Regions from separate parts of the Homo sapiens genome. Here regions 1, 2, 3, 4, 5 and 6 are each linked to region 7. Evidence: fine-mapped expression QTL. Tissue or cell type: whole blood. Region 7 holds a variant in brackets; each other region holds the start of a gene. Each region is shown on its reference strand, or each on the opposite one.

Region 1 (4,368 bases), not on the chromosome of region 7:
TGCAATGGTGCGATCTTGGCTCACTGCGACCTCTGCCTCCCAGGTTCAAGTGATTCCCCCTGCTCAGCCTCTCAAGTAGCTGGGATTACAGGCACCAGCCACCACGTCCAGCTAATTTTTGTATTTTCAGTAGAGACGGGGTTTTGCCATGTTAGCCAGGCTGGTCTCGAACTCCTGACCTCAGACAATCCACCCACCTCGGCCTCCCAAAGTGCTGGGATTACAGGAGTGAGCCACTGCGCCCAGCCCTGAAAGTAATCTTATTATATCATTATAAAAACCCCATATATTAATAGCACCATTTTACATTTGAGCAAACCGGCTCAAGGAAGTTATGTGGCCTGCTCAAGGTGAACAACAGAATGGGGATTTGAACTCAGGTCTGTGTGACTCCAACTCAATGATCTTAACTGCTGTGCTATTCTGTTTCCCAGCACTCTTGGCATCATACTGATGACAGAGTATAAGAGGTGCCTTTGTTCACCACAGTGGTGGTACCTAGCCACAGGGTGTAGGTCTGACACTCAAAATTTGCCAGATTTAGGCCTTGCGATTTGGTGACAAAGAGAAGCCAGAGCCAACCAGTAATGGAGACGAGGGTTCAGAAGCCTGAGGAAGCCCCTGGGGGTTGAAGGTCTCTTTCCCTCCTTCTGTGATAGGCAGATCTGCCTATACCTTGTCAAGCCACCATCTCATGCTGTTGTGACAGGCGTCACTTTGTTATGGCAGCACCGTCTGCCGTAAGCCTAGAGTTGGAGAGCCAGCAAGAGTATGTCAGCGTGAGTGTGAGTGTGTGTGTGTGTGTGTGTGTGTGTCCCAGCGTTCTCCTCATGGTAGTGTCCTGATGACAGTTTCTCATTTCCTCTGGCTGGCACCTTTGGTTTCTATTCATTACTTCTTCTCCTCCTAGCTTTCTGTTCCTCCTCCTCTCCTTTGTTAAAATCCTGGATTTTCAATCAGCTGAGAGTCTCCTGGGGGTAGGAATGGTGGTGTCAGCGCAGAGTGATTCATCTAGCTGATAATTAGAGCTCTGGAAAACCCAGAACTCATTTTTGTCAGAGTCAGGGCTTCCGGAATCCCTAGGCTTTTTGTTTTGTCAGAGAGTGGAGCTTGCTGGGCTGGGGCCTTCTTTATGCCTGTCTTTTGGTCACCCACCTCATTGAAGCCCTTCAACTGAGATGAGTATGAGTGCTCGCTGGGTCTTGCAAAAAGCTGTTTCTATAACTCCGAGTCCTCACAGTGATCCCCCAAGCGTTATCCCTGTTTGGACAGAAGGGGAAGATTGGGCAATTTGCACATAGTCACCCAGCTTGTAAGTGATGCAGCAGGGATTCAAAGCCAAGTTTTTTGGAATCCATCAGACTTGATTTGAATCCTAGCCCTGCCATTATTAGCTGTGTGTGTTTGGGCACATTAATTTCCTTCTCTGAGCACTGGCTTCCTCAGCTGTAAACAGCCTCCTACCTAATACTGTCTCAAGTGCTCCATGCAGAGTGTGGCACAACGGTGGGAGCTGTCCTGATTACTCTTGTTAGTCAGCCCTATCAGCAGCTCAGTGGGCACCAGGCATTCAGAGACAAAGGACACAGGTAGAGGCAGCCAGACTTCACTCATATCAGCTCTTGTGTCCTGGCACTGCCTATGTGGAGATGACAAATGCACATACACACAAGTGGCCACACACCCTAGGAAAACCCAGCAGTGCACACAAGCTTAGACACGTGTGCCCACACATGGATATAGAGTGACCCAGGGGACAGCTGGAAAGACAGCCAAGAGTTAGACATCATAAGCAGCAAACACCCTGACTCACACCTCTGGGACAAGGGAGTGGGGCTACGGCCGCTGGTGCTGCTGCCACTGAGCCCTTCTAGCTGCTTCTGCATGCCAAGGGAGGGAAGCCAGGCTCTTAGAGGGCCCCAGTGAGTCACTTGCCTGATGCAATCCCTTTAAAGGGCTCATCTGCTGGTGCAAGAAGCTGATTCATGGAGGGCGTGGTTGCTGGAGGAGGAGGAGAAAGGGACCGAAACTGCAGCAGGAGGAACTGAGGTTAGATAGCTGTAGTCGCTAATAGGAACGCTTCACTGTAAACCTCCCTGGTCAAGGCTTCAGGGATCTCCAGGTTGAAGGTTGCCATCCTCGGGGTTTCTACAAAGGCGACAGACCTAGAGGGAAATGAATTATGAGCGCTGCGACAGGAATTTCTGTCTTTTATTGAGCCTAACTGCAGGGCTTTCCTCACAGAGTTCCACAAACCGGGAAATGAGGATCAAGGATGAGTCACTTTTCTGATAAATACACTACAATTGGCCGATCTTCCAACCGCTGGGGACTTCAACCTCGGCAGGGGGAGTGTAGGGCCCGCGAGGTTCTGTGGGGTCGGGCGGGGCGGTGCCTCCGTCCCAGCCTCGCCGCAGATATAGATCAGCAGTAAGTACCGCCCCATTAGAGCCTCGGCCTCCAATCGTGTAACAGGTTTCGCCCAGACCCCACCCTGAACCAATCCTCAATCGGACTCTGGCCTCTTGCCTGAAGTCTTCCGCCCATCGTCAAGATGGCGCCCCAATCCGAAAGCCGTGGGGCTGGAGACGCAGGCGGAGGGCGGGGCCCGGGGGGGCGGGGCCGCGGCTAAGGCTGGGGAGGAGGGGGGCGGTGCGTCACTTCCGTTGTCAGGTGGCGGCGCCGCAGCCATGGAGGGAGGCGGCGGCGGCGGCGGCGGCGGCTCGGGTGGCTGCGCTGGGAGGCGGCGGTGAGAGGCTCGCACGCCTCCAGCCCGGCCCCGGCCCCCCGGGAGGGAGAGCCGAGCAGCCCCGGCTCTGGGCTACGGACTATGGGCGAATAGCTCTGACCACCCGGCGAAGGTGAGGGCAGGGGTCCAGGAGCGGGGAGCCGGGTGGGGGTTGCGGGTAGGCGGGGCGGGCCCCGGCGGCCGCGGCGGTGGAATCGGAGTGACAGCCTGAAGCCATCTGAGTGCAGCAGAAATGGCCCCGGCGAATGCCCCCTCCTCCGCTGGGGCTCTGCCCTTCCCCGGCGGCAGGGGCGAGGGCTGCCTCGCGCCGGGTACCGGGAGGCCGCGGGAGCTTCAGTCCCCGCCGCAGCTCTGGGAAGTGGGCACTGCCAGCTTTGCCTAGAGTCACCCAGCCAGTGAGTGAAGCAACCGGCGTGTGAATCCAGCCAGATCTTTCCAAAAAGACACCTTCTGCCTCTCCGTGTTTCCCTCCTAATCCCGAGGGTGACTTGATAGTTAGAACGAGTCCCCAGGGAGGGCCAGCCAGGGCTTCCTCCAAGAGCCCTCACTCTGGCACGGGCGCTACCGCTGCTGGGGAATTTTCATATCCCGGGCGGCGTTCAGGTACGAGTCACAGCTACCTGCTTGCCAAGGCCACGTTTGGCCGGCCTTTTCCAAGGAGAGCTTGCTGTGGTCAGTGTTTCACCTGCCGAGCCGGTCAGGCCCGCCCATTCCCACGCCACTTGGCCCCGCCTTCCAGCCAGTTAGGTAGGGACATTCGGATTCCTGATGCCGAGTTTTCTGCCCACCCCAATCCCCAGGTTTGAAGCCCTTTTGTTAGCGGAAGGAAGAGATGACAGCCGCCCTCTGTGTGGCAGGATAGACTTTGCTCTGTTTTAAGTCACTGGAGGAAACCGGTTGGCTTTGCTTTGGTTTTGAGAACCAGTGGGGAAGAGGGTAGGCATACTGGGCTGGGCGCCTTTCCCTCTTTGAGTAGTTTTGCGTGAGATAAGGAAGAGCAGAATGTGTAATTGTAGGGCCAAAATAATCTTGTTTGTAAACAGTGCCTGTGAGCTCCTTTAGTGCTTCCTAATGGCCGTGCTGTGCAAGTTGTTGGTTGGGTTAATCTAGACAGTCCTCATTCATTCATTCATTCATTTCTCACATGACCACAACAAGAGTCCTTGCCTAGAGGCAAGTGCTAGACAGCATAGTGGTTAAGAGTAGGCTTTGGAGCCAGACTTCCTGAGTTCAAATTCTGGCTCAGCAACTTTCCAGCTGTGTGTACCTGGGCACATTGCTTAGTCTCCCTGTGCCTCAGTGTCTTCGTCTATAAAACAAGGATGATAACAGAGAGAGATATTATGAAGAGTAAAAAGTTAACATGTAAAACATACAACCATGTTTGCCACGTAATAAGAATTCAATAAATGTTATCTATTTTTATTTCAAGGAGCATACAGTCTAATTAAGGGAAATTGACCTGTAAACAAATGGTTGAAATGTGGTCTAAAGAAGCTAGTAGTGGCTGGGCGCCGTGGCTCATGCCTGTAATCCCAACACTTTGGGAAGCCGAGGCGGGCGGATCACCTGAGGTCAGGAGTTCGAGACCAGCCTGGCTAACATGGTGAAACCCCATC
Region 2 (4,368 bases), not on the chromosome of region 7:
TTTACTTCTTCCAGCCTCAGTTTCCTTTTGAAGGAAAGGCGTAGACACTTGTGAGGATAGAGTGCTTTTATGTAAATCATCTAATCTAATGCTAGGAATATAGTAGGTACTCAATATGATATATGATTTTGAACTCTCTCTCTCTCTCTCTCACACACACACACACACACACACACACACACACACAGCCAGCCCTAAGTTCCATTTCAACTTCTGATTTTGATTGTCCCTGTAGTGCCTGCTGCTGGACTCACAAGATCAACCTTTGAAGCGACATTCCCTAATGTGGGATCCTTGGACCAAGTACATGAGAATCACCCAAGGGCCTTCACTAAAATGCAGATTTCTGGGTCTATGTCAGATCCATAGAATTAGAATTTCTGAAAGAGGAACCCAAGGAGCTTCACACTTGGGGGTTCTAATGCACATTGAAGTTGGAGAAACAGCACTGAAGAGTTTGGTCAGTTCCTTCTAGACCATATACTTGCAATTCTAGTAGTTACCACCATGTGGCTTTGTGGGGGACGGGGGTTGTGGGGGGAGCCTGTACCTCCATGTGGACAGGTGTGGACACTTGAGAGAAAGCATGGCTAGTACCCAAGACAGCCTCCTCTGGTTTCATTTACAAAAAACAATTATTGATGAGGGTAGCGGACTTCATGCGCTGCACCCCTGTTAGTGATCTCTCTTACAACAACCACACAGAAGAGACAGGACTTCCTGAGAACCACATGCCTGAGGAAGGTGCTGGGATGGAGGCTCAGTGGGCCAGGCTCAGTGGAGAGCATCTGCCACTGCTGCACAACTGATCTGTGGCCAGGAGCTGAGCATAAGGACTGTGTTTGCCAGGAGAGCTTGAGGCCATAGGCCTGGGAGCTCCAATCCCTAGTGCTCTCTACCATGACTACTGAATGTTTTCTGGGTGGCTAATGATGGCCAAAAGCTAGGGTTCCCGGATTTATCAAACAAAAATAGAGGATGACTAATTAAATTTGAATTTCAGATAAATAACAGTCTTTAATACAAGTATGTCCTGTGTTTATCTGAAATCCAAATTTAAATGGGTGTCCTGTAATTTATCTAGCAACTTTACCTAGGGTTTCTCTGTGCTGCTCTAACCACAGAAGGGGCTGAAGTCCCCATGTGGCTTGCCCCCAGCTTGGAGCTCCATGATCCTGGCCTTGGGTAGGCCCTATACCCAAGGCAGGTGAAGAGTGTGTATGGACAGGGTATGGATTTCCTGGGCAGGGGCAGGAAGCTCATTCATACTGATCTAGCTCTTATGAGATGCTGGCAGTGTGTTAAACACTTGACTAACATCTCATTTAATCCCCTGACTACCTAGTGAGTCGGGCATTATCATTATTATTTCCACTTTAGAGATGAGGAGACTGAGGCTCCACGATGTTAAGACCACAGGCTGTTTAATGGAGGAGCAAGGTTGACATCCCTGGGGCTGGTGCCAAGTCTGGGAGTAGCTGAATCTCCCAGGCCATTCTCTCTGGCAATCCCAAGAGTTTAACGCAGTGGGAGCAGCCCCTGCCCCCGAATCCCCAGGACAGGAACCATTCCCAGTTTCTCTTGGCGCTGGCCCAGGGTCTTCTCCAGGCTCACATGCTTGCTGGAGGCTCCAGGCGGGTGGGGAGATCTGCAGGGTCCCTTTGTTCCCGTCCGGCCAGGACAGTGTCCAGTGGCACGAGTTGCCATGGGGACTGCCATCTGCTGTGTGGATACCCATCGGAGGGGCCCAGGGTGAGCGACTGCCCCAAAGGCCCAGCCTGCCCTGAGCCCTGAGGCCAGCTGGTCGGCTTTCCCTGCCATTATCCCCCGAGCCAGGCCGGAGTGGGGCTCCCAGAGGAGCTCTCGGCTCTAAGTCCCAGCCCCTCTCAGAGGAGGCGTGCGGCCGAGGTTCTGCAGCCAGAGGCTTCTCGGCTCTGAGCTCCGGAGCCAGATGTAACATTGACCTTAAATGGTAAAAGCTCCCCAGAGTGAAGAGAGGCTGGCCAGAGGAGGAAAGGAGAATAACTCAGTTTTAGGTAAGCCTCCCCTATATCCTAGAATAACCTGCCTCTTCGGCTGGGAAGCGGAGGGAACCTTCTCTTCCTTAAAGGTACAGGGTGCTGGGATGGGGGTGCTAAACTTTAACTTTCCAGGGGAGCTGGCTTTGTTGGGTGGCATTTCAGCTGAGTATCTTTATTGTTGCTGTCTTAAGTTTTAAATCAGAAGTGAATCTTGCCAGTCCTAACTTAACTAGATTGTGCTCCTTTTGCTTGCCGTTGGAAAGTGTGCACAGCTCAGGGTGAAAATGTGGGTCCTGACAGGCGATTGCAACCCCTAGCTTTCCTGTGGGCCCCTTTGTGGCAACAGTGGGGTCTTCAGCTTTGGCAAGTCTGCTAAGCAGAGCTTTCTCCCCTCTGTGCTTCCTGTGTCTCTCTCTCTGTCCCCCTACGCCCCTCTGCCTTGAACCTGGGCTGGCATGACCTGTCTAGATCCTTAAGCCTGCCTCTATTTCTGTCTCTGCCCTTCCCATCCTGTGTTCTTGTCACAGTCCCTGTTTTTATCTCTGTCCCTGTCTCCTCTTTTGTCTCCAGCTTCCCCTGGCCTGTGCCCTTCCCTGCTCCCTAGAGGGGGTGTATGTGCCCGGCCCGTGCCCGGCCCTGCTCACCTCCAGGGCTCCGAGTTGAAGCGATTCCTAGAGTGAGCACCATTTGAACTGGCTTTTTCCAAAGGAAAAGCCAGTGGAAGCCAGAGGCCAGAGAGAGGCCCAGCTGTCTTGCTCCCTCCTGCCCAGGAAACAGTTGTAAAGGCTATAGAGGCTCTGCAGTTTGAGTAAACAGCAGCCCGGGGTCTGGGACCCCTGGCCAGCACTCCAGCCTCCCAGAGCTCGGCAGCTGCTGAACACTCTTCAGGCTGCTCACTGGGGTGGCACAGGGAAGTAAATCTGGTCTGAGCAGAGTCTTTTGCAGGGAAAAGGAGGAAGCTTCCTGGGACTGTGAGGCTGGGGGTCCAAAGGAGTCAGGACCTGCCAAGGATTGTATTGCCCCCACCGAGGGACGATGACATGCTAGTGAGGCAGGTGGAGTTGCCCATCCCCCTGCACTCCCCTACCCCAACAGTTCTATGGGGGAGGGAACTCAGGTTAAGTGACTTGCCTAAGGTCGTTCCACCAAGATGGAGCGGAGCTAGGACTCAAACCCTGTATGAGTTTGTATGACTCTAACTCCAGTGCCCATGCCTCTCAACACAGACGTGAATGCCAGGGTATGATGCTGCCTCCAATTGTGTCTTGCGATTTTTGACCTAATGGACAAAACAGTTGTCATTATCATGTTTGTACTGTCCATGATTCCATAGTGCGTGTATGTGTGTGTGTGTGCATGCATATTTGGTGGGTGGCTGTTTATATTCACAGCGGATGCACCTATCTTTATGCTTGGAGGTAAGGGAGGCATTCCTGTATCCTTTATCATCTTGGAGGGATAACCATGTGCTAGCTGCTACTACATGATTGGTTATCCCCATAAATATATTTCTGAAAGAAAATAAACAGCAAACACATGGTTCTTACTATGTATTGAACACTGTTCCCCTTCCCATACAGTAACTCATGACTCCCACAGCTCTACAAAGCAGGGGTCATTCTTTCCACCCTGGTCTTGTAGAGGAGGACACTTTAGCACAGAGAGACTGCACAGCTGATGCTCAGCCCCAGGCCATGGTCTCTGGAGGCTCTGCTCTTGACCTCCATGGTCAGCTCCCGTCTGCTTGGGACCCCATGTCAGAGTGCAGCGGGGGAATCACCGGCCCCCTTGCAACATGGTGCATCTGAGGCTTTCCACGAGGGATTTCACATGCCCCCTCACAGAATGCCATGGGGGATGTATCTTTACCTTACTGCTCCAGGTGAGGACAGTGGGGCTAGGGGATGTTAAATGACTCGTCCAAGCTCACCCAGCCACCAAGTGACAAAGCAGGGAATTTAAATAGTATCTTGGGTGAGGAAGTTAGGGCCATGTGAAACCTACTTGAAACTGAATCCCTGGGAGGCTGAGGAGGCTCATGGTTTGGGGATGAGGAGTTCTGTGGGTCTGTGTGAGGAAGCTAGGTTCCTTGACTGATGGGCTGAACTATACGTGATGGGTCCTCAGCTTTCTAAAAAGCCCTGCCTTTCTCCTCTAAGTCTTTGTAACAGAGGTGGACAGAAGCACCCCACACCTCCTGGAGGAGCAGACTGAGCCCTGCAAGGGCGGAGACCTTATCCCGTTCCTCACCCGTTGTGTGTCTAGCACCCAGAATGCCGGGAGCACACGAAGTGCTCAGGTTCAATCATGTTTCTGTGAATAAATGGACACAATGCTTATAAAGTGG
Region 3 (4,211 bases), not on the chromosome of region 7:
CGTTGGCAGGTGCAGCCCCATCTTCCAAGTTGTGGCTTTGGCTGCCACAATGTCCTCTCATTTATTGAGGTGAGGACTCTGGGGATGGGGAGAGACCCACAGTGAGGCAGATCCCGCCCCTGGGAGAGGAGCTGGGGCTAAATCTGAAGCCCCACCCACCCTCCTCCACCTCCTGTCGGGGCGCCAACTTACGTGGCATTTTCTGCAGCACCTCCAAGATTTTCTGTACCTTTGTGTCAATGTTTTTTATGCCTAGGGGGCGGGGAGGGTTGGGTGGGAACAGATAAGTCAAGCTGCGGTGGAGCCTCAAACAAAGCCCCCACCTTCCTTGGAAGCACCCCCCCTGCCCCACACCCACCCTGGGGTACAGCAGAGCCCATGGATTTGGGGTTCCCAGGAGCCTTTCAATACCCACAGAGCAACCCAGATGGTAACACCCATCGCCCCTCCACAACTTGAGCTTTGGGAGGGTAGGACCCCGGCTTTCTCCTCCCCTGAATCCCCTGCCCCCAGCTCAGCTCCGGGCATTGGTGACAAATAACCCCCATAGAAGGCGAGACTACACAGGCACCTGCTAATGTCGTCTCTAATCTATCAATCTTGCTCCTGACCATGGTGATGCTCTGCTGAACGGAATCCCAGCCTCTCTTCTGTCTCTCTTCGCATGCTTGTACGGAGTTTGAGACTGAGGGCATGAAACAGGGGTGTCTGTGCATCCATCCCTCTCCAGACCCCCACCATGACCCCACGGGTCTCCCTCAGACCCTCCGCTCACCATTCCAAAGCTCCCTTTTAAAGCCCAGCAGCTCCTTGGACATCTCAGCATCTGTTCAGGAGGGGCAGGAAAATCCTTGAAGCACCCAGGGAGAGAGAGAGAGAAGGACAAGGGAGAAAGTCTAGGCCCCCCAGCACCCTCCTCCCAAGAAGTACTCACTCTTCACCATGATGAAGGCTGACAGGATGATGCAGAGGACAAAGGCCAGGGCCAGGAGGATGTACAGGCTCAGGATGGCTCTGTACAACCAGCAGGGGACCTGGGTGGAGTCTGAGGGCGGCCTGCACTGGGCTGGGACTGGAGCAAAGAGGCAGCAAAGTGACCTTGAGGGGCCAGCACCACCACTCAAACCATCCTCACTGTCTCTAACACCATGGACACCTCGCTCCTCTCAAAACCATCAGCAGCTGTGGTCATGCAGCTTGTCATCATCGTCAACAACACTGCCACCACCAGCCACCCTCAGCGATCTAACACCGTCACCATCACAGACCCCCTCTCCAGCATTCCCCAACATTGTCATCATCAACAGACCTCATTAGCACGTCAACAGCTGTCACCTCTTCCTTCCCCATCGCTTCCTCCCTTCCACGCAGCCCCGGGGGCCCTGCAGTTGCCCGCCCACCTGCCCCTTCCCAAGGTGATGGGATGTGAGCAGGTGGGTGTCTGCTCACCTTGGCTCGTGGGTCGTGAATGACCACCCTTTGCATGGTCCTGATTTTTGAAGGCCAAGGTGATATTCTCATAGTCTGGGTCATGGGCACCTGGGAGGGGTTGGAGATCTGCTCAGAGCTCTGTGGTGTGGAGAGTGGATCCGGGATCTTGTTTTACCCAACCCTTTGCACTCAATAAATTGTAGGGGGTGAAAGATAAGGAGTGAGAAGCTAAAATCTGCTTTTTGGTTAAGTGGAGCGGGTGTGTGAGAGTTTGAGTGATCACACCACACACACATCCACACACACATCCACACATCTTGGAGGGGAAGGAGCCCCCGGCCCCCACCTTTGACCCCTTACCTCTCCCATCTGAACTCTCCTTCTTTTTTTATTTTTATTTTTTACAGACAGAGTCTCCCTATGTTGCCCAGGCCAGTCTCCACCTCCAGGGCTCACGCAATCCTCCCGCCTCAGCCTCCCAAAGTGCTAGGATTACAGACATGAGCAAAAGCCCCCGGCCCCCCAATCTCTCCTTCTTAACCCCTCCCTTCCACCTCGAGTTCCCTAACCTTGATTCTTGGCTGAGACCCCCTGTTTCTTGTCCCTGAAGGCTGGTGCTTGCATCTTGACTTCCTGGTGCTTGTAGATTTCCTCCACTTCCATGGTCCCCAGCCCGCAAATTTGTCCATACACGTCCCCGCCCACCGGAAGGTGTGGGCAGATGAGGAAATCTGGAGGTGGGGGGAAGAAAGAGGGGGAGCAGCCTCCTCTTTTCAGGGATCCACGACTCTCGCACCCTGGGGCACCCTCATTCCTGCCCCGATCAAGAGGCTCTTGGGAGCCAAGAGGTCTCAGGAAGGACCAAGAAGAAAAACCTCTAGACCGGGAGATGGAATTCGACACTCGGAAATGTTACAGGAAGCTGTGGTCTCTGTGTGTGTCTGTGTCTACCTGGATGGACCTCACCCTCCTACCTCCTCTCCATTTCAAAAGAGAAGCTGTGACACCTCAGTGTCCCAACTTTTCGCGTAAGAGCAACCAGGCTTGGAGACAGGACCCCTGGGTCCCCCCACACCTTCCTCCCTCCAGCCTCAGCTCCACCCCTCAGCTCCACCCCCAAGAAGTTCTTCTACTTCTACAAGTCCCCGTGGAGGAAAAGCACAGATGTGAGGCAACGGGAACTAACCACTGGAACGCCACACCCACATCTGGGACTGAGGACAGACCCACATCCTTCCCTCCCTCCCCAAATCCCCTGCTTTTATACAACCCTGGAGGAGGCTGGGTGCGGTGGCTCACGCCTGTAATCCCAGCACTCTGGGAGGCTGAGGTGGGTGGATCATCTGAGGTCAGGAGTTTGAAACCAGCCTGGCTAACATGGTGAAACCCCGTCTCTACTAAAAATACAAAAATTAGCTGGGCGTGGTGGCGAGCGCCTGTAATCCTAGCTACTCAGGAGGCTGAGGCAGGAGAATCGCTTAAACCTGGGAGGCGGAGGCTGCAGTGAGCGGAGATCACACCATTGCACTCCAGAATGGGTGACAAGAGGGAAACTCTGTCTCAAAAAAGAACCCTGGAGGAACAGTTTCCTCTGCACCTGGAAACTCCAGGTTTCTCATTCTCATCCATCCATCTGCTTATCTACCCAGATACTCTCTCTCACACATGTACACACACAGGTCTGCACACGGACACACATCACAAACTCATTTGCATACTATTTGCATTGTGACACTCAGAAAAATAGACACAAGCATGCGTTCACATGCCCGCACTCTGTCTAGAAGGTGTCTTAGTTCACTTTGTGTTTATCTGATCTTGAAAACTGGGGTTACAAAAGGCACAAAGTAGCTGGGTATGGTGGCTCGCTCTGTAGTCCCAGCTACCCAGGAGGCTGAGGTAGGAGGATCATTTGAGGCCAGGAGTTTGAGACCAGCGTGAGCAACATAGCAAGACCCTGTCTCTTTAAATGTTTTTTAATAATTTTTTTTTGAGACAGGGTTTCACTCTGTTGCCCAGGCCGGGGTGCAGCAGCGTGATCATGGCTCACTGCAGCTTTGACCTCCCTGGCTCAAGTAATCCTTCGTCCTCGGCTTCCCGAGTAGCTGAAATTACAGGTGGGCACGACTTCACCTGGCTAATTTTTCTCCTTTTTTGAGATGGAGTTTTGTGCTTGTCACCCAGGCTGGAGTGCAATGACGCTATCTCAGCTCACTGCAACCTCCGCATCCCAGGTTCAAGTCATTCTCCTGCCTCAGCCTCCCAAGTAGCTGGGATTACAGGCATGCACCACCACCCCCGGCTAATTTTGTATTTTTAGTAGAGACGGGGTTTCCCCATGTTGGTCAGGCTGGTCTCGAACTCCTGACTTCACGTGATCTACCCGCCTTGGCCTCCCAAAGTGCTGGGATTACAAGCATCAGCCACCGTGGCCCAGTCTAATTTTTCTTATTTTTTGTAGAGATGAGGGTCTCAATATGCCGTCCAGGCTGGTCTTGATCTCCTGGGTTCAACTGATCCTCCAGCCTTGGTCTCCCAAAGTGCTGGGATTACAGGCATACATTTTTATTTTTATTTTTTTCTGGCCAGGTGTGGTGGCTCACGCCTGTAATCACAGCACTTTGGGAGTCTGAGGCGGGCGGATCACCTGAGGTCAGGAGTTAGAGACACCAGCCTGACCAATATGATAAAACCCTGTCTCTACTAAAAATGCAAAAATTAACTGGGCGTGGTGGCAGGCGCCTGTAATCTCAGCCACTCGGGAGGCTGAGACAGGAGAA
Region 4 (4,368 bases), not on the chromosome of region 7:
TCGTGTAAGTGCACTCCATGATGTTCCTGCAACACAAAATCACCTAGCAACACATTTCTCAGAATGTATCTGTCATTAAGTGACACGTGACTATTTGCACTGTTGACCTCAAGTACACAAATAGATCAGACAAGTGGAGAAAGACCTCATTCTACTTCATTCTAATTTAAATGCAGGTGCTGTCCGTAGTTAGGAAAATGTGAAGGAGCAATCAGCCTCCAGTGATATTCAAGTCTAATTAAAAATTCTTCTTGGACTGTTTAGTTCAAAGCTCCCTCTTAATCTTCCAGGAGCTTAATCCTCCACACAAAGTATATGAAGACACAAAAATGTAGAAAGTATGTGAAATAGCTATTATTTAAGTGTGGAATATTAATTTTGTTGTAAGGAGGGGATTTATTCACTGAAATAAACTTTATTAATTTGACTCATCGCCACAGAAGTCACGTAGGCTCCTCTCTGAGTCAGAAAATGTCAAGAGCTTTCTGTCTATTTTTCCTCTTTAGGGACTGCTTGAGTACAGCAAAAGGAGGGGCCAGCAGATTTCAGTTCAAGCATGTTTGAAGCCTGTTTTCCGACATTATTTGTAGAACAAAAAATAAACATAGTAAAATCTCCACTACAAATGATCTCTATAAAGTGTAATAACATGATTTAAGTTTATGTATTATTTTCTATATTTTATAAATTGCTGCATTGAACAGCTTTAATAAAAAAAATTAAAGTTAGCCTTGAAAATTTTTTTGGTTGTTGTTTGTTTTAATTTACAGACATGATAGTACCTTTTAGCTGTTCCTATACTTGAGTAGCAATCAATTTGGGTGTAAAATATTAGGGTCATAATGTTCTTTATACCTCATCCCACTCTCTCATGGTATTTGTTACTCAGAGAAGAAATCTGAGTCCTGATTATTTCAATTCCTTTGAAGAAACCAAGTTATTTTTTTGTTTATTTAGCAGTAGGAATCTTTTTATTTAAATTTAAAAATTTTCACCTGGAAACTTCCTATTCTAGGTCTCACTTTGTGAATTTTTTCCTTGCCCATGTTGAACTCTCAACCTCCAATTTTAGATTTCTTCTCAGACCTGGAAAGCATATTTTTTAAGATAAAATTTTTAATCTTGCTTGTGATCCACCATTCCATTTTATGCTTTAAGGACATCTCTGATTTGTAGATTGGAATTCTGTGATTTGTCCTCCCTTAAATTTCTGAGCTCTTCTAAATGTCTTTATTCATTTCACATTTGGGAATATTTCTGAAGTGAATCCTCTCCATTATTGATTTGATTTTCACACTGTCAAATCTGTCTTTTCTTGCTTCTAGTACAAAACCTGCTGGATTTTTTCTTCTTGCTTCAGCGTCTTGAACCAAGTTTCCTTTTTAAATCTAAGTCTGTTCTTGTTGGGTGGTGGCAGTGTCCTCTCAAATTGTTTCTGGGGTCCCTACACCCCCGTGAGCTCCCAGGCCATGTCTGTGGCAATGCTGAAGGACAAATGCAGGGTGTGGCCCTCCTGGTGATGAAGAGGAGGTGCACCCCAGGTCACCAGAAGCCAAGAGAACCCACGGGGCTGAGCAGGGCAGGATGAAGCAACATGTTCTCACAAAAACCCTGAAGATGAGATACGATTGTCGCAGCCTCTCCCTATGTGGGCCTGACTCTCTTCACTACACTAAACTGGATGTGAATGGAGAGGGGGCCTCTGGAGAGCAAAGGGCCCTCTGTTCCCCTTCCTAATATGAATGCCTTACTTTGATTTACATTCAAGTATCATTCTCCCTTAGATTTTGTAAGGTTGAAAGGTAATTGTCATTATTACCACAGAAAGGAAAACTGGAGTTCAAAGAAACTTAACTGAGAAGTGAGTCTTGGTCTCTGTATTATTGTGTTGATGTCAGGAGTCAGAGCAACTGGTGATGAAACAGAACCCAAACTCAGTGACTCCCAGGAATGGCCTCATATCCTGTTGTGCAACTTTCCGAAGCCTCTAGGTCATTGTGGTGCCTTGTAGCTGTCCCGGGAGCCCTCAGCAGCAGTTGGAGCTGGTGCACAGGAAGGATGAGGAAGACCAGGCTCTGGGGGCTGCTGTGGATGCTCTTTGTCTCAGGTAAGACAAGGAAGAGGACTGAGCAGGGGAGGCGTTTGGTCCAGGATCTCGGGGAGCCCTTTTCTGTTGAAGCTTCAGAGCACAGGGCCATCCAAGATAGAGCCAACCAGTAGTTATGGCAGACCGTGCTGCTCTACCCAGAATTGGGAGAACATGCAGTGTCTGCACACAAAAGTAAAAGAAGGAGAGAGTCAGGGAAAAAAGATGTCTGTGCATGTCGATGTTGTTAGAGACATGCAAAGCCTAGTATGGGAATAATGATAGAGTAGATCTCATCATGGCATGATCTACAATAAGTTTATTTGATGTTGAAATTTTTTTCTTATATTCCATCATGATGTGTTTGATGTTGACAATCTGTTAAACCCAAAAGACAGAATTGATTTAACAAATATTTCCCAGGGGTCTACTATGGGACAGCAAATATACTACTGCTGAGGACACAGACGTGACCAGAAGAGGCTGGTGCTCATTTTGGTGGAGGTGATCATCCCAGCTCTCCATGGCACGCTGGGGTTGGAGGGCACAGTTGCTGAGGCTCAGCAGAGCCGGCGCATGCCCCAGCTCTTTCTTGTGTCTCCTCTTACGATCCGCACAGCTCACATCTGCACCCAAACCAGAAGCATGCGGGCTTTATTCACTCCTCCTCCTAATCCTTATGAATAACAGGAGGAAAGTGTCAATATGAGTTAAAAGCGAGGCTTGCCTTGGGAAGGCATGAAAAATCAGGGAGAGGTATCCTCCTGGGCTCTCTACTTTGAGCAAAGTCATGGACAACTGCCTTGAAGAGCCTGTGCTCAGACATTGCTCTGGGTCTTCTTGGAGCTGGGGTGATAATCTAGATGGGCAGAAGGGAGTTAGCTCCTCATGGACAAGTGCATTTCCTTGTGTTTGATTCATGTTTTTCTGAAGGAGAACTGGGAGATGGCAGAGGGCTGAAGGTTATGTACCTGTGTGAGAGAAAACCAGTGGTATATATTTCATTGTGCCCTGTGGGGATAGGTTAGGGGTTAACCTCAATGCTCCTTGCAACTGGATACTTATTCACACTTGGGCCAGGACTTCTCTAATCCCTATCAGACTGTGTTGGACCATGTAGCTCAGTGCTTTAGGTGGAACCAGAGTCCTTGGGTTTGAATCCTGGCTCTAGTACTTAACTATGGTGAGACTTTGGGCAAATCACTTAATCTGTCTGTGCCTCAGTTTCCTTATCTATAAAATGGGGAGAATAATGGTGTCAACTTTTTACTTTATAAAGATTAAATAAGATAGTCTTTAAAAACCCTTAGCACATAATACTTAATAGGTAGTATTTGCTACCCTTTTAATTAACATATTCAAAGGAATTCCCTTCTTGCAATTGTGCACAGACAGCTCAGCAGCCTTCATTTCTTATTGTCTCCTTCCTTCTGTGAGAGACAGGCAAGTTTGCAAACTCAGTCACCTGTAACTCCCACCTTCCCTGGGGAGCTGGCAAATAAAAGAGATTTATCTGTAACATTAACTTCAGAGGTTAGGGCTTCAGTGGTGGCAACTTGAGGATGGAGTCTGTGTGTCTTCCAAAGAGCCCAGCACAGTGCCTATGATAGAGAAGTCTCCCAGCCAGTCTGATGAGTGAGTGAACAAATGAGGGAACCAGGCTTGGTTTCAGACAACACTCAGCCTCTGGTCAACAGTCTCTTGGAGGCACATTCCTGACTGGAGTGTGTGGGAGTTGCCCAAGAGGTCTGTTTCCGAGGTTTCCCTAGAAACTGGAGTCTGCTCCCAGAAGAACTGGCTTTCAAGACTGATTTCACCTTTAAACTCCTTGTGAGTCCCTGAGTTGAGTCTTCCTAAGGTCAGGCAGATCTGTTGGCCTATCCTGGGGTGGGCATGCCAGGGGGCTCCATGAAAGGGTAAGCACTTGTCATTTTTCACCAGGCCTGCAAGGACCTAAGTGTGTGGTATTAATAACAGCAGTACTAGTGTTACCGTGACCCACACAGTAGACCCAGCAGCACTGTCTAGCCTGTTATTTGGTGCTCCATGGGGGAAGGTACCCCAGGCCTGAGTGGGTAAGCTACAGTCTCTCAGCAAACTTAGAGAGCCCTGTGTGTCCAGCTGAAAACACGGACCTTGGTCTTCTCACTTCCGCTCTGCTTGGCCTCCCATCAGCAAGGCTCCCTTGGACAAGGCCAGATGAGCATCCCCAATTCTAGATGGTTAACCCAGTTCGGACTCCAAGAATGTGATGGAAACTATTGTCACTGTAACCCAGGGGT
Region 5 (4,368 bases), not on the chromosome of region 7:
AACCCGGGAAGCGGACGTTGCAGTGAGCTGAGATCGCGCCACTGCACTCAAGCCTGGCGACAGAGCAAGACTCCGTCTCAAAAATAAAGATAAAAATAAAAATAAAATGTAACTATATTGACTATCGGAATCAGTAAATCATCTCACTGAAAATAGTCTCTGAGTTGTTTTTAGGAGGATATGGTTATCCCTTATAAATATTGATTTTGCATTCCCTAAGTGATTAGGGAGGGCTTTAATAGTGTTTCTATGGCTTCTGAAATATATGAGAACAAAACAATTTGTGCTAGAACTTTTTCTGGATGTGCGTAAGTCCACACTCTATGCATTGCTGGATTTCAGTCTTAATAGGTAATTAATTGTGTGACATCATCATTGTGTACCCTCTGAGTAACTCTAAAGAAATATGTTTGTTCTTTAGGAAACCTATTAAATATCCCATAGTGCAACGTTAGAAATGACCTCTGGAACTGACTGCAGAAACTGCACAGCAGTTAGTAGAGCTTGGTGTTCCGACGCAGATCTGGTGAGAGGCCTGCGCAGGAAGAGACTCGACATGGAGCAGGTGTGACTAGCGATAGTGATTTAATGGATTTGGGCCCGACATGGTGGCTCACGCCTGTAATCCCAGCACTTTGGGAGGCTGAGGCCGGCGAATCTCTTAAGCCCAGGAGTTTGAAACCAGCCTGGACAATATTGTGAGATCCCATCTCAATTTTTTTTTTGAGATGGAGTCTCGCTCTGTCGCCCAGGCTGGAGTGCAATGGAACGATCTCGGCTCACTGCAACCTCCGCCTCCCGGGTTCAAGCGATTCTCCTGCCTCAGCCTCCCGAGTAGCTGGGATTACAGGCGCACGCCACTACGCTTGGCTAATTTTTGTATTTTTAGTAGAAATGGGGTTTCACCATGTTGACCAGGCTGGTTTCAAACTCCTGACCTCAAGTGATCCGCCCACCTCAGCCTCCCAAAATGCTGGGATTACCGGCATGAGCCACTGTGCTCGGCTGAAAAAAACCATATTTTTAATTTAAAATAATAAATGGGTCTGACCAGAAATGCCTGCCTCAAATTGCAGGACACATGACAAAGCCCATTCTTACTTAAGACATTTTCAGTGTGCGATGGGTCTACCGGGATGTAACCCCATCGTGAGTCGAGGCCCATCTGCACCCTGCTATAGCTACTGGTAGATCTTACCTGTTTCCCAAAAAGGACCCAACTACTTTAGGTTCAAGGCACTTTTTTGGAATATTTAACAGGGAAAGAGCCTGGAACTAAAAACAGGTCTAACGCAAGATGCCGCCACACGATGGCACTGCTTCCGTAGACCTGGAAGAAACGCGGGCGCGGGAGCTGGCGGCGGACGCCCGGGTCTGCGGGGTCGGGGAGTAGCGTCCGGCCGGAGAGCCCGCACCTCGAGGAGCCGGCGGAGGACGCGGTGTCGTGACCGCGTCTCCCCCATCTGCTCTGCTTTTGGCGACAGCGTCCCGTCGGCCTTTCGGCCAGGACGCAGCAGCCGCGTCTCTGGGCCTCGACCCCCAGGGCCGGCCGGACCCGGGACCTCCGAGGAGAGCAGCGAGAACCGGCCCGGATTCCCCGAGGCGCCCGAGTGCGGTGCGGGCAGCCCTCCCCGCCTGCCAGGCCGCCGCTGTCCCCACGTCTGGTCCCCCACGCCTCTTCCCGCATCTGGTCCCACGGTGGAGGCGCGGGGCGAGGGCCTCACGCGCGTGCCCACGGTCGGGGGGCGTCCTTGGACGCGCGGGTCCTCTCCCACGGGTCTCCACCCCCCGCCCTCCGGCGACAGGAGCCGGCCTGGGACGCGCGCGCTGCGGCCAAGTCCTGGTTTTGATTTCACTCCCAACCCCGAGGAGCGAGGAGGTTCCAAGCCCACAAACAGGAAGAAGAGAAGGCCCTGGAGTGCTGGCAGAGGGAGTGTCATTCCCAGCAGCGCAGCGCAGGCCGGCCCGGGCCGGGGAGGGAGCAGCAGCGCGGGCACCCTCCTGCAACGTGGGCTGGGGGTCCCCAGGGCCGGGGAGGGGGCCCCGGGGAGGAACTGAGAGGGGGCGCGCCCCGGGAAGGCTCGGGGCGGCTCCGGGGGGCTCCCAGGGCGCCCCCGCCCCTTCCCCCGCGGCCCCGGGGCGCCCCCGCGGTGCCGGAGTCGGGGCGGGGCGTGCACGTCAGCCGGGGCTAGAAAAGGCGGCGGGGCTGGGCCCAGCGAGGTGACAGCCTCGCTTGGACGCAGAGCCCGGCCCGACGCCGCCATGAGCGCCGCGCTCTTCAGCCTGGACGGCCCGGCGCGCGGCGCGCCCTGGCCTGCGGAGCCTGCGCCCTTCTACGAACCGGGCCGGGCGGGCAAGCCGGGCCGCGGGGCCGAGCCAGGGGCCCTAGGCGAGCCAGGCGCCGCCGCCCCCGCCATGTACGACGACGAGAGCGCCATCGACTTCAGCGCCTACATCGACTCCATGGCCGCCGTGCCCACCCTGGAGCTGTGCCACGACGAGCTCTTCGCCGACCTCTTCAACAGCAATCACAAGGCGGGCGGCGCGGGGCCCCTGGAGCTTCTTCCCGGCGGCCCCGCGCGCCCCTTGGGCCCGGGCCCTGCCGCTCCCCGCCTGCTCAAGCGCGAGCCCGACTGGGGCGACGGCGACGCGCCCGGCTCGCTGTTGCCCGCGCAGGTGGCCGCGTGCGCACAGACCGTGGTGAGCTTGGCGGCCGCAGGGCAGCCCACCCCGCCCACGTCGCCGGAGCCGCCGCGCAGCAGCCCCAGGCAGACCCCCGCGCCCGGCCCCGCCCGGGAGAAGAGCGCCGGCAAGAGGGGCCCGGACCGCGGCAGCCCCGAGTACCGGCAGCGGCGCGAGCGCAACAACATCGCCGTGCGCAAGAGCCGCGACAAGGCCAAGCGGCGCAACCAGGAGATGCAGCAGAAGTTGGTGGAGCTGTCGGCTGAGAACGAGAAGCTGCACCAGCGCGTGGAGCAGCTCACGCGGGACCTGGCCGGCCTCCGGCAGTTCTTCAAGCAGCTGCCCAGCCCGCCCTTCCTGCCGGCCGCCGGGACAGCAGACTGCCGGTAACGCGCGGCCGGGGCGGGAGAGACTCAGCAACGACCCATACCTCAGACCCGACGGCCCGGAGCGGAGCGCGCCCTGCCCTGGCGCAGCCAGAGCCGCCGGGTGCCCGCTGCAGTTTCTTGGGACATAGGAGCGCAAAGAAGCTACAGCCTGGACTTACCACCACTAAACTGCGAGAGAAGCTAAACGTGTTTATTTTCCCTTAAATTATTTTTGTAATGGTAGCTTTTTCTACATCTTACTCCTGTTGATGCAGCTAAGGTACATTTGTAAAAAGAAAAAAAACCAGACTTTTCAGACAAACCCTTTGTATTGTAGATAAGAGGAAAAGACTGAGCATGCTCACTTTTTTATATTAATTTTTACAGTATTTGTAAGAATAAAGCAGCATTTGAAATCGCCCCTGCTTCCTATATTCGCAGTGACTCCCGCCCGCCCGCCGGTGGCGCAGGACCCGGCTCGGGAAGGGTGCGTTCCGGACCCGCAGCCAGCGAGCACCAGGGAGCCCGGGCGCCAGGTGTGTGTGTGGGGGGGGCGGGGGGATGGGGCGCAGGCCCGAGCTACTCAGGAGAGAGGGTCTGTCGCTTTTAAAACGCATTAAAGGCTCTCTCCTGGCCTTATTTAACTTGCCTAAGCTAGGTGGAGCACGGCTGAGCTCAGGTAAGCTAGCAGCTTTCCAGCAGAAGGTGTTCTCCCGAAGAACGCAGACCTGGGGAAGGGTTGACTTTTTGGGGGCCCCTGCTGAGAACAGTTCAAGAGCTCCCTAACTGTAGAGGCTGCTGGAGGGGCGAGGGGCAGAACCCCGGGCTGAATCATCTCCCGCTTTCCCGGGACTTTGCTTTCACTTTCCTCAGTCTTGTGGACAGAGTCAAGTAGATTTTCAAAAGTGCTCCAGAAAGGCCGGAATAGTCATGTAGTGGATGAAAAGGGCAGTCACAAAACTGCTTAAGACCAGCTGTCTTGCCAGTAATTGCAGTGCTTTAAGATTTAATTAAAAAGCCGCCTGCCTTTAACCCAAGAACACTTGGTATTAGGGCACCATGTCTTGGTCACGGCTGCTACGTGTATCTGATGTAGTTAACCATGGCCTGTCATGATTATATTGCTATAAGGAAGGGAACAAAATCTTTATAGTGTCCAAAGATAATTAATTCTTGGTTTAAATCTTTGCCAGCAAAGCAAATATCCGACTGACTGCTCCTTAGTCTGTGATCTTTGCTCTCCGTGCACATTACCCAGCCTAATTAAAACAGGTGTGTGTGGTGGAGCCAGCTATCCCCACCACCATTCAGCAGAGAC
Region 6 (4,368 bases), not on the chromosome of region 7:
GGTGCCTTAAAGGAATGTAGGAACCGAATGGCCATTTTCCTGCCAATGGGACAATATTGAGACTAAAATTTGGCTATGGAAGACTTCTTAACTCCTAACTGCTAAAGGCAGAACTTTCCCATTTCAAGAAGAGGCCTAGAGCCTGATTTCTTTTTCTTTTTTCTTTTCTTGTTCTTTCTTTCTCTCTCTCTCTCTCTTTCCTTTTCTTTTCTTTTCTTTTTTTTGAGACCGAGTCTTGCTCTGTTGCCCAGGCTGGAGTGCAGTGGCGCGATCTCGGCTCACTGCAAGCTCTGCCTGCCGGGTTCACGCCATTCTCCTGCCTCAGCCTCCCGAGTAGCTGGGACTACAGGCGCCCGCCACCACGCCTGGCTAATTTTTTTTTGTATTTTTAGTAGAGACGGGGTTTCACTGTGTTAGCCAGGATGGTCTCGATCTCCCGACCTCATGATCTGCCCGCCTCGGCCTCCCAAAGTGCTGGGATTACAGGCATGAGCCACCGCGCCTGGCCGAGCCTGATTTCTAATCATGCAAAAAGAAGCTGCGGTTTGCCATGAAAAAATATGCTTTATGTAGAGGATTTCTATTTCTACTAGGTGGCACTGTTGGCTTAGAAATACTATGTGCTCACTAGAGACGTGGTAGTGAGTAACCTCACGGTGGGAGAAAGGGGAGAACTCTGTTCCTAGAAGATTGCAAGGGCATCTTCCTGATTTTGCCTAACAGGATTACTTTCCTAGGCTGTAAAACTCGCTACACATTTCACACAAAGAAAGTGTAAGAGACCGCAGATAGAGAAGGAAGGAGAGTTTTGTGACAAGATAGTTGAGGATTCTTTGCCAACACCCAGAATGGGCCGCCAGAGGCTGGGTCCAGTCCAGGGGCCTTTGAATCATGCCAGGGTGTGCTCTGGCCAGAAATTGTTAGTTGCCTTAGAACTTTTCCCAGCCTTGCACAATGGCGAGGTCTTCCCGTGAAAAGAAGCTGATTTAAAACATGGCCAACATTCCCAATGACCCAGGGGTGTTGGGGGGTTCTCCGTGTTCTCAGCAGCAAGCCTCACATTCGAGTCTTCAGTATGGCAGCCAACACTAAGTGTATGTACCCGGCTGACGGATGCCCATTGACTTATTTTATTTTAAAATAGAGGCTAAGAGTGCCTCGGAATGATAGAAGAGATTTTAAGCTCACTCCCATACTTACCACTCCGATGAGTGTCGTACCTTGGATTCCCGGCCAATGCAACAAAATGGTATGGCTCTGATGACTGGAGGAACACTAGGGTCCTTGGTCTCCCACTGGTTTGAATAAAACAACATGGGCACACGTGGAGTGGTTTTAAGGAGTGGAGAATTTAATAGACAAGAAAGAAGGAAGGAAGAGGCTCCCCCTGTTCTGAGACTGAGGGAGGCGGGCTCCAAGCTGAAAGAGGGAACCTCGAGTACGGTGGAAAACAGCCAGTTATATGAGGAGGCTGGAGGAGGCGGTACCTGATTTGCATAGGGCCCAGGGGATTGGTTTGACCAGGTATGTCATTCAAGTAGCCCACGAAAAAACTAGCCTTCCTACCCTAGCCTTTTAATATGCAAATACAGGCGCCATGATGTTCTACACACATGGGTGTATGTAGGGGCGGCCATGTTGCCAGGAACGTGGGGAAAAGAAGAAGAGGCGGGAGTCTCCATGTTTGGGTGGACGCAGTTTCTAATGGCCTGTATTTGCATATCAAAGCTTGCCTGCCCAGCTCTAAGAGCCAGGGCTTTTCTTCTAGACAAGAAACATTTATGGAGCTGCTTTAAAAGAAAAAAAAATCTTCCCAAGCACCCCTTTTCCTATCTACCTAAAATAATTTCTTAATAACTCCTATAACAACAACAAACATTATGAGCCCAGTTAATAGATACAATAACTGAGGCACAGAGATGTTGATTGCATTGTCCACAGTCACGCAGCTTGTAGGTGGTGCTCGTGGGGTTAGAGCCAGGTCTGTCTGACCCAACAGTCTGCATGTTTATGCACTTGGCTATAACACCTGAACAAATGCATGTTCAGGTGTGCCCAGCATGACCCATCCGACATCTGAGTTGGGTGTTCACTGTGGTATAGAACAGCTCTGAAATTGACTCCCAGAGTGTTATACCCCTTGGACCCAAGGCCTGCTAGGCCAGACGCCCCCCACCCCACCCCTTCTGCAGACGTATCTCCCCCTACCCTAAAGACCCTGCACAGTCCCCTCCCTCCTCTTTTTTACATAGTGACGATGCTTAAGCCCTGTGGCGCAGCCCTGCCAAAAAATGACACCTCTTTCGTTTAATAATTAAAAGCAGGAACTACCCACTCTATAAAAGGAAGTGAATGAGTAAGAAAGTCAAAGGCGGTCTAGATGTGCAGAAGGTGCAAGCCAGAGCTCAGGCAGAACTTCCAGAGTGCATCTGGGATCTGCATTTGCCACTGGTTGCAGATCAGGCGGACGAGGAGCCGGGAAGGCAGAGCCATGTGGCTGCCCCCTGCTCTGCTCCTTCTCAGCCTCTCAGGTGAGTGGGGCTGGGGCCTTGGGCGCTTGGTATGACAGGGGCAGGGCAGGAGGCAGAGGGCATTTGTCCTTCCACATCCAGGGAAATGAGAGGTGGCTTTGTGAAGTCATTCGACAAAGGTGCACTGGGGACTGACATCGTGTGCTTCGGGGCCTGAGGACATCAAGAAAAAAGAGGAGGAGAACTGGCCATTAAAGAAGACTCCAGGCTTGAGGCCATGGCTCACACCTATAATCCTAACACTTTGGGAGGCCAAGGTGGGAGGATTGCTTGAGTCCAGGCGTTTAAGACCAGTTTGGGCAACATGGTGAGACCTCGTCTCTATATAAAATGAACAAAAATTAGCTGGGCGTGGTGACCGTGCCTGTAGTCCCAGCTACTTGGGAGGCTGAAGCTGGAGGATCCTTTGAGCTCAGGTATTCAATTCTGCAGAGTTATGATCGCACCACAGCACTCCAGCCTGGGTGATACAGTGGGACCTTGTCTCAAAAAAAAAATAAAGTAAAAAGACTCCAGATGGCTTAGTGGGTGAGACATACACATAAACAATGAGCAATTGCAGGACACAATAAGGCATTGGTGGAGGCGTGTGCGGAGGATGAAGCAGTTCTCTCTGGTGACTAGAGAAAGACTCACGAAGCTGTGCACTTGATGTGCCTTGTAGAAGGAAGGTCAGTCTCTGGAGCAGAGCTGAGAGGAGAACACTCTAGAGAGTTGGGTGTGTGTGTGTGTGTGTGTGTGTGTGTGTGTGTGTGTGTGTTGGGGGACCTGGGCAGAGAGATGGAGGCTTAGAAAGAATGGTGGATTCATGCAGAGGGAGCTGTCAGTGTGCAGGATGTCTTGGAGGTGGCGAGTTGGATATGAGGTTGGAAACACAAAAGACAAGATTATGAAGGCCATCCACGCCAGGCTCAGGAGCTGAGACTTTCAAAGAAAAAACTTCTCAAGAACCCAGGTGGAAAGTGGGAAGGGCTAGATGATCTTCTCCATGGCAAACCTTGGTGGACACCTAGAGGGCATTAGGGGACAATCTAGAATTTTACGCAGGGTGTGCAATGTGTGTGGGCCACACAGTTTTCTGCTGGTGCCTAGGGACTGACCATCTGGCACAGATAGAGCAGTCCACGGAGGGACAACAGGAAAGAGCATGGCTGGGGAGTTCTGAGACCCGACTCCAGTCCTGGCTGGACTTCCACCCTTCAGCCCGTTCAACGGGGCTCTGCTCCAAGCTGACGGCTGCCCTGTCATTTCCATCTCTATCGTTCCTCATACCAACTCTTGACAACATATAGAAGCCTGATTAATAGTTCCAGCCATCATATTCTGTGGTTAGAGAAACCCCCAAATATTTTTTTAAACGGGACTAATTACATCGTGAGCCATTTACAGTTTGAATGACTGAAGCTGGGATTGATGACACTTTGTTCAATGCAGCAGCATCTCTTTTCTGCTGTTAGTGATTGCTGACAAATCCAATTTATGTTTTTGGGTATTTTGTTTTTGTTTTTGTTTTTTGTTTTTGAGACGGAGTTTCACTCTGTCACCCAGGTTGGAGTGCAGTGGTGCAACCTTGGCTCACTGCAACCTCCGCCTCCCAGGTTCGAGTGATTCTTCTGCCTCAGTCTCCCAAGAAGCTGGGATTAAGGTGCCTGCCACCATGCCTGGCTAATTTTTGTAATTTTAGTAGAGACAGGATTTCACCATGTTGGTGAGGTTGGTCTTGAACTCCTGACCTCAGGTGATCCACCCACCTTGGCCTCCCAAAGTGCGGGAATACAGGCATGAGCCACCGTGCCCGGCCCCGAAAAGACTTTTAGATGCTCAGGGCAAGTGCAGC
Region 7 (4,368 bases):
AGAAAATGAAAAGTGTGAGCATTTCAACTCTGTTCTTTCTCTTCAGGTTGGTTGGCTATTCAAGGTCCCTTGTAATTTCATGTGGGTTTCAGGATTGACTGTTCATTTTCTACAAAAAAGATTGATGAAATTTTGATAGGGATTGAGTCTATAGATCATCTTGGGGAGTATTTTCATTTTAATGGTATTAAATCTCTCAATCCATGAACATAGTATGTCTTCCTATTTATTGATGTCTCTTTTTTTAAATTAAGGTTTTGTGATTTTTCAGCATGGAAATATTGGTTCTTCTTTGTTAACTTTATTTCTATGTATTTTATTCTTTTGAATGGTATTGTAAATGAAATTTTTAAAACAACGTTCAAATTGTTTATTGCTCATGTATAGATTTGCAACTGATTTTTGCATATTGGTGTCATATCCTACAACCTTGCTGAACACATTTATTAATTCTATTTTTTTAGTGTGCTCTGTAGCATATTCTATATATAAGATCATGTCATCTGGAAATAAATATAGTTCTACTTCTTCTTTTCCAGTCGAAAAGCCTTTTATTTCCTTTGCCTGACTAATTTCTCTGGCTGGAACTTCCAGTACAATGTGGAATAGAAGCAGTGAGAATGAATATCTTTGTCTTATTCCTGATCTTAGGGGAAAACAATAAGTCATTTTCTATTAAATTAGCTGTGGATGTTTCATAGATGTCTTTTATTAGGCTCAGGAAATTTCCATTTTTTTCATAGCTTTTTGAGTGTTTTTATCATGAAGGGGGTTAGATTTTTGTCAAATGTCTTTTCTGCATTAATTTAGAGGATCATATGGTTTTATCATTTATTCTGTTGATATGTTATTTTACATTAATTAATTTTCAGATATTAAACCAACCTTGAATTCCTGGAATAAGTTCCACTTGGTATGCATACACATGGTATACAGTTTGTGTTATATGTTACTGGATTTGGCTTGCTAGTATTTTGTTGAAGGTTTTTATATCTATATTAATATGATATATTGATTTGTTTTCTTGTGATATCTTTGGTATCAATAGGAAGTTAAGAATTTATAAGCGGCAAGGAGTAGGGGCAGATTGGAAGTATTCCAAGTCTCCTAACTAACTAGGGAAAATGTTTCAAGTCACACAACAGTGCAAAAAGAGCAAGAAAGAGTATACTATGTTTTCTGTTTATCTTTGACACTTACATTTAGGGCTTCCTTAATCTATTTTATCCCATTTGTGAGCTTACTTATTGAATTGGCTAAAGAGACAGGAACAAAGCTTTATAGCCATGAGAGAACTGCTGTAATCTTGGTATCATGGATGGAATGTGCCTTTGAATAGACTTGATTTCTCTTACCTCTTTGTTTCTCTATATTTAAGGGATGAGCTATGAAAAGCCTATTAAAAATAACATGAGCCAGTCTCATTATGCTTGGCTGAACTTAGATTCCAGTAAATGTTTGTGGATTCCTTTTCTAATCACTACATTAACTGGAATTAATAACTGAGAAACAAAATACTACTACTCCCAATTTTTTTTAAGTTGTGAGTGTATGGCATTATTCATTTCATCTCCTCCCAGCAACTTGTGTTTATGCACACACACACACACACACACTCCCCTGCCCCATGCAGGTATGAATATGTGTGTATATGCATCTCTGTGCTTATATGATTAAACATGACTCTACTTTTGAACATTCAGTGAAAATTAAGAAATAATTCATACAGATGATATAGGATGGCTTAAGCCTAAAGCTATCATTCTGGGTTAAAAGTAAAATAGTACATGCAAATGAATTTCCTATCATAAGTTTCTTATTTCCAATTTTCACAGCAGCTCTGACATAGGTTTGAGGGCTGACATTTCATCCTTGGCTGTGCAAAGTTCCCAGATCATGACGGTTTGTTGCTGGGAGTCCAGAGCAGAACTGGAGGAAAGGTGCTTCCACTGCTTCTTCCCAGAGAGGGAGGGGCTGGGAGCTCCTTGCCACAGGCTGACCTCTGTCCCCTCCCTTGTTGAGCTGGTGGTTGCCCAGT[C/T]CCTGCAAGTGTTACCTCATTTCCTCTATTTGGAGGTCCTCCTCTACCTCTTCCCTAATTCATCTCCATGACGTGTCTCAAACTTTTTTGCATGAAGTTGTCACTAATTCACTTCACTCACTCGGATCACTCCTTTGGGCTCCTCTATCTTGAGATAGGTCAGATGCCATTTACAGAAGAAACTCCATCTCCAGCCACGTAATGAAGTAAAGAGATAGTCATAGGTGGTGCTTAGTCTCCCCACTGGGGTAAGAAAATGGAGGCTGGAGGAACCCACAGGGCAAGGATGCTGTCAGGGCAGGGGAGGCTGGGCACAAGTGTCCAAGAGCACAACAATCTCAATCTTGTTCAGGGAAAGTTGTCAGCTGTGGGAGTGGAAGTGGGGTAGGCAGGTGGTGATGGGATCCCAGTGGTAGATGGAGTGTAGACCCTGAGCATATTGGCTAAATGATGCCAAGCAGTATGGAACCACTTAAAAAAATGGTTCTTGGAGCCTTGCCACCTGGTAGGGTGTTCAGAAGCTGGACTTCAATATTGAAAGCAAGGCATTTGGAGGACTAAATGGAGACAGAAAAGGGCACTTAAAGTCCTTTCCATAGACTAGGGCATGCACAGGACAGGGAGAGTTGGTAATTGAGGCACAGAACAGGAGCTCCCTGGTTAGCCACGTAATAAGAGTGATGATATTAGGTTCTGCCTGTTGAATAGAGAGAAGGGGATGGTTGCAAAAGTTTAAGTAATTGCAACCTCAGTCAAAACAGATTCAGGAACTAACTGTGGGAGAGGCAGTGAGCATGTGGGTATGGGTGATCCCTTAACTGAATTGTAAGAAAGTAGTGGGAGAGATCCAGGGTGAGGAGGTTACAGTGCCATGCCAGGAAAGGAGACCTGCTGATTGGGCCACTCGGTAGTTAGGTGAGTAAGCCAGGTCAAGGGCTTACAATTTTTCAGAATAGAGAGGATCAATTTTGTAAGGGCATCTTGAAGTGATCACATTCTCAGAAACAAGCCCATGGTAGTCAAACTCACATGATGCCAAATTATAATCCAAAAATAATCCTTTTGTGAATTTACCATAAGAATCATTTCTTTCTATTGATATTGACATATGTGACCCAGGGTACCACTTCCAAATCAGTAACTATTAGGATATGATTGGAGCACAGGATGGTGAAAACTCCCAGAACACTTCTAGGTACTATTCAGGTCTCTTTAATGCCAGTGTGGGCCCAGTCCCAAATTTGACAAGCATCACTCATGGCTTTCTTCTCCTCCCTTTTCTAATTCAGATTCTTTCTACCACCACCCTCTCCTCAGGTCTGTCTCTATCATTGATGGCACTACTCTTTCTTCATTTGATTTATGTGTGGTCTTATTCTCTCTTGCTTTGATTTAGGAGATACTGCTTTTCTAAAGACCACCACAGAATGCCACTTTCTGCATTGCTTGAAAATTCTGGTAACTGAACTTAGAAGCTCATCTTAGGTGTAAGAACAAACTCTTTTAACTTCTCTCTGTGGGCCAAACAGGCAAAATGAGACAGCCTGTGTCCTTCCAACATTTTAGATCCTTAGTCATTCTGATGAATGAGTGGATGGAGAGATGGACGAAGAGCTCACAAACTCAGAAACAACCAGAGGTGTAACATCTACTAGTCTTTTTGTCTTTCATGAAATCTCACCTTCTCATTATTTTCCTTATCTGTTTGATTATCACAATTGAGCACTTATTCCTAAGCACTATTGCTTATTATGCCTCTTAGGGTTTCTACTCCAGAGACACACAGCCTCTTCCTGACCTGGGAATGTACCACCACTTGGTGCTGAATTGTGACCCCAAAGTGCTCAAGGACCCTCCCCAGGAAGGCAGAACACATGCTTAAACCTGGGACTCTTGAGAAAATGCACATTCTGATTCTGTACATCTGAAGTGGGGCACGAGGATCTGATTTCTACCAAGTTTCCAGGTGGCACAGGTGCCACTTGTTCCTGGACCTTGAGTAACAAGGCCCAAGTGGTAAAATCAAGGGCTTGGAGCTTAACTCTCCTGAGTTGGAATCCCATTTTCCTCCATTATCAGCTTCATGACCTTAGACAAATTCTTCAACTTCTCTGAGCCTCAGTTTTGTTTCTGAGCATGGGGTTGCCACTTGGTTGCCAGGTTCTTGTGAGGATGGAGGTCACGTATGTTCAGTGCCTCTGCCAGTGTGTGCCACCTACAGCCCTCACAAGGCCCTTCCCTTCAAGCCCCATCTGAGTCCCTCCTCCACCCAACGTCTGGCTTCTCTATCTGGAGGATCCTGGAAGGACAAGATACAGCTGTTCCCAGGG

What was found. PIP is the estimated chance that this variant, and not a neighbour inherited with it, causes the effect.
Region 1: STK40 starts here. The variant in region 7 is the best candidate, but not a certain one, in a credible set for the expression of STK40 in whole blood (TOPMed, PIP 0.85).
Region 2: IRAG1 starts here. The variant in region 7 is the best candidate, but not a certain one, in a credible set for the expression of IRAG1 in whole blood (TOPMed, PIP 0.84).
Region 3: MCEMP1 starts here. The variant in region 7 is the best candidate, but not a certain one, in a credible set for the expression of MCEMP1 in whole blood (TOPMed, PIP 0.83).
Region 4: TREM1 starts here. The variant in region 7 is the best candidate, but not a certain one, in a credible set for the expression of TREM1 in whole blood (TOPMed, PIP 0.83).
Region 5: it holds the start of CEBPD, and the variant in region 7 is the best candidate, but not a certain one, in a credible set for the expression of CEBPD in whole blood (TOPMed, PIP 0.85).
Region 6: CD300LB starts here. The variant in region 7 is the best candidate, but not a certain one, in a credible set for the expression of CD300LB in whole blood (TOPMed, PIP 0.78).

What each region holds. Positions count from the first base shown.
Region 1 is chr1:36,384,216-36,388,583 of GRCh38, reverse strand. STK40 (serine/threonine kinase 40) reads left to right here and starts at 2,660. Exons shown (of 11, transcript NM_001282547.2): 1 at 2,660-2,861. LOC124904012 (a long non-coding RNA gene) reads right to left here and starts at 2,393. Exons shown (of 2, transcript XR_007065779.1): 1 at 2,257-2,393; 2 at 1-2,165. RefSeq lists enhancers at 1,813-2,182, 2,213-2,322, 1,147-2,346 and silencers at 2,553-2,932, 3,083-3,152, 3,453-3,502.
Region 2 is chr11:10,691,204-10,695,571 of GRCh38, reverse strand. IRAG1 (inositol 1,4,5-triphosphate receptor associated 1) reads left to right here and starts at 1,817. Exons shown (of 21, transcript NM_130385.4): 1 at 1,817-2,036. The coding sequence starts at 1,970.
Region 3 is chr19:7,674,965-7,679,175 of GRCh38, reverse strand. MCEMP1 (mast cell expressed membrane protein 1) reads right to left here and starts at 2,086. Exons shown (of 7, transcript NM_174918.3): 1 at 2,001-2,086; 2 at 1,450-1,539; 3 at 935-1,072; 4 at 776-826; 5 at 572-685; 6 at 193-252; 7 at 1-78. The coding sequence starts at 2,055. The coding sequence ends at 62. RefSeq lists an enhancer at 1,050-1,119.
Region 4 is chr6:41,284,346-41,288,713 of GRCh38, reverse strand. It overlaps TREM1 (triggering receptor expressed on myeloid cells 1), which reads left to right and starts at 2,032. Exons shown (of 4, transcript NM_018643.5): 1 at 2,032-2,107. The coding sequence starts at 2,059. RefSeq lists a silencer at 1-47.
Region 5 is chr8:47,736,015-47,740,382 of GRCh38, reverse strand. It overlaps CEBPD (CCAAT enhancer binding protein delta), which reads left to right and starts at 2,219. Exons shown (of 1, transcript NM_005195.4): 1 at 2,219-3,470. The coding sequence starts at 2,263. The coding sequence ends at 3,072. SPIDR (scaffold protein involved in DNA repair) reads right to left here. Exons shown (of 20, transcript NM_001080394.4): 20 at 4,077-4,368. RefSeq lists silencers at 1,391-1,860, 1,951-2,030, 2,071-2,180, 2,671-2,860 and an enhancer at 2,257-3,195.
Region 6 is chr17:74,529,474-74,533,841 of GRCh38, reverse strand. CD300LB (CD300 molecule like family member b) reads left to right here and starts at 2,367. Exons shown (of 4, transcript NM_174892.4): 1 at 2,367-2,531. The coding sequence starts at 2,492. LOC107985074 (a long non-coding RNA gene) reads right to left here. Exons shown (of 3, transcript XR_007065902.1): 2 at 1,201-1,295.
Region 7 is chr7:50,218,889-50,223,256 of GRCh38, reverse strand. No RefSeq gene overlaps it. Among named protein-coding and RNA genes, the nearest start is that of IKZF1, 84 kb to the left of the region's middle. The variant C/T (reference allele first, on the strand shown) is at 2,039.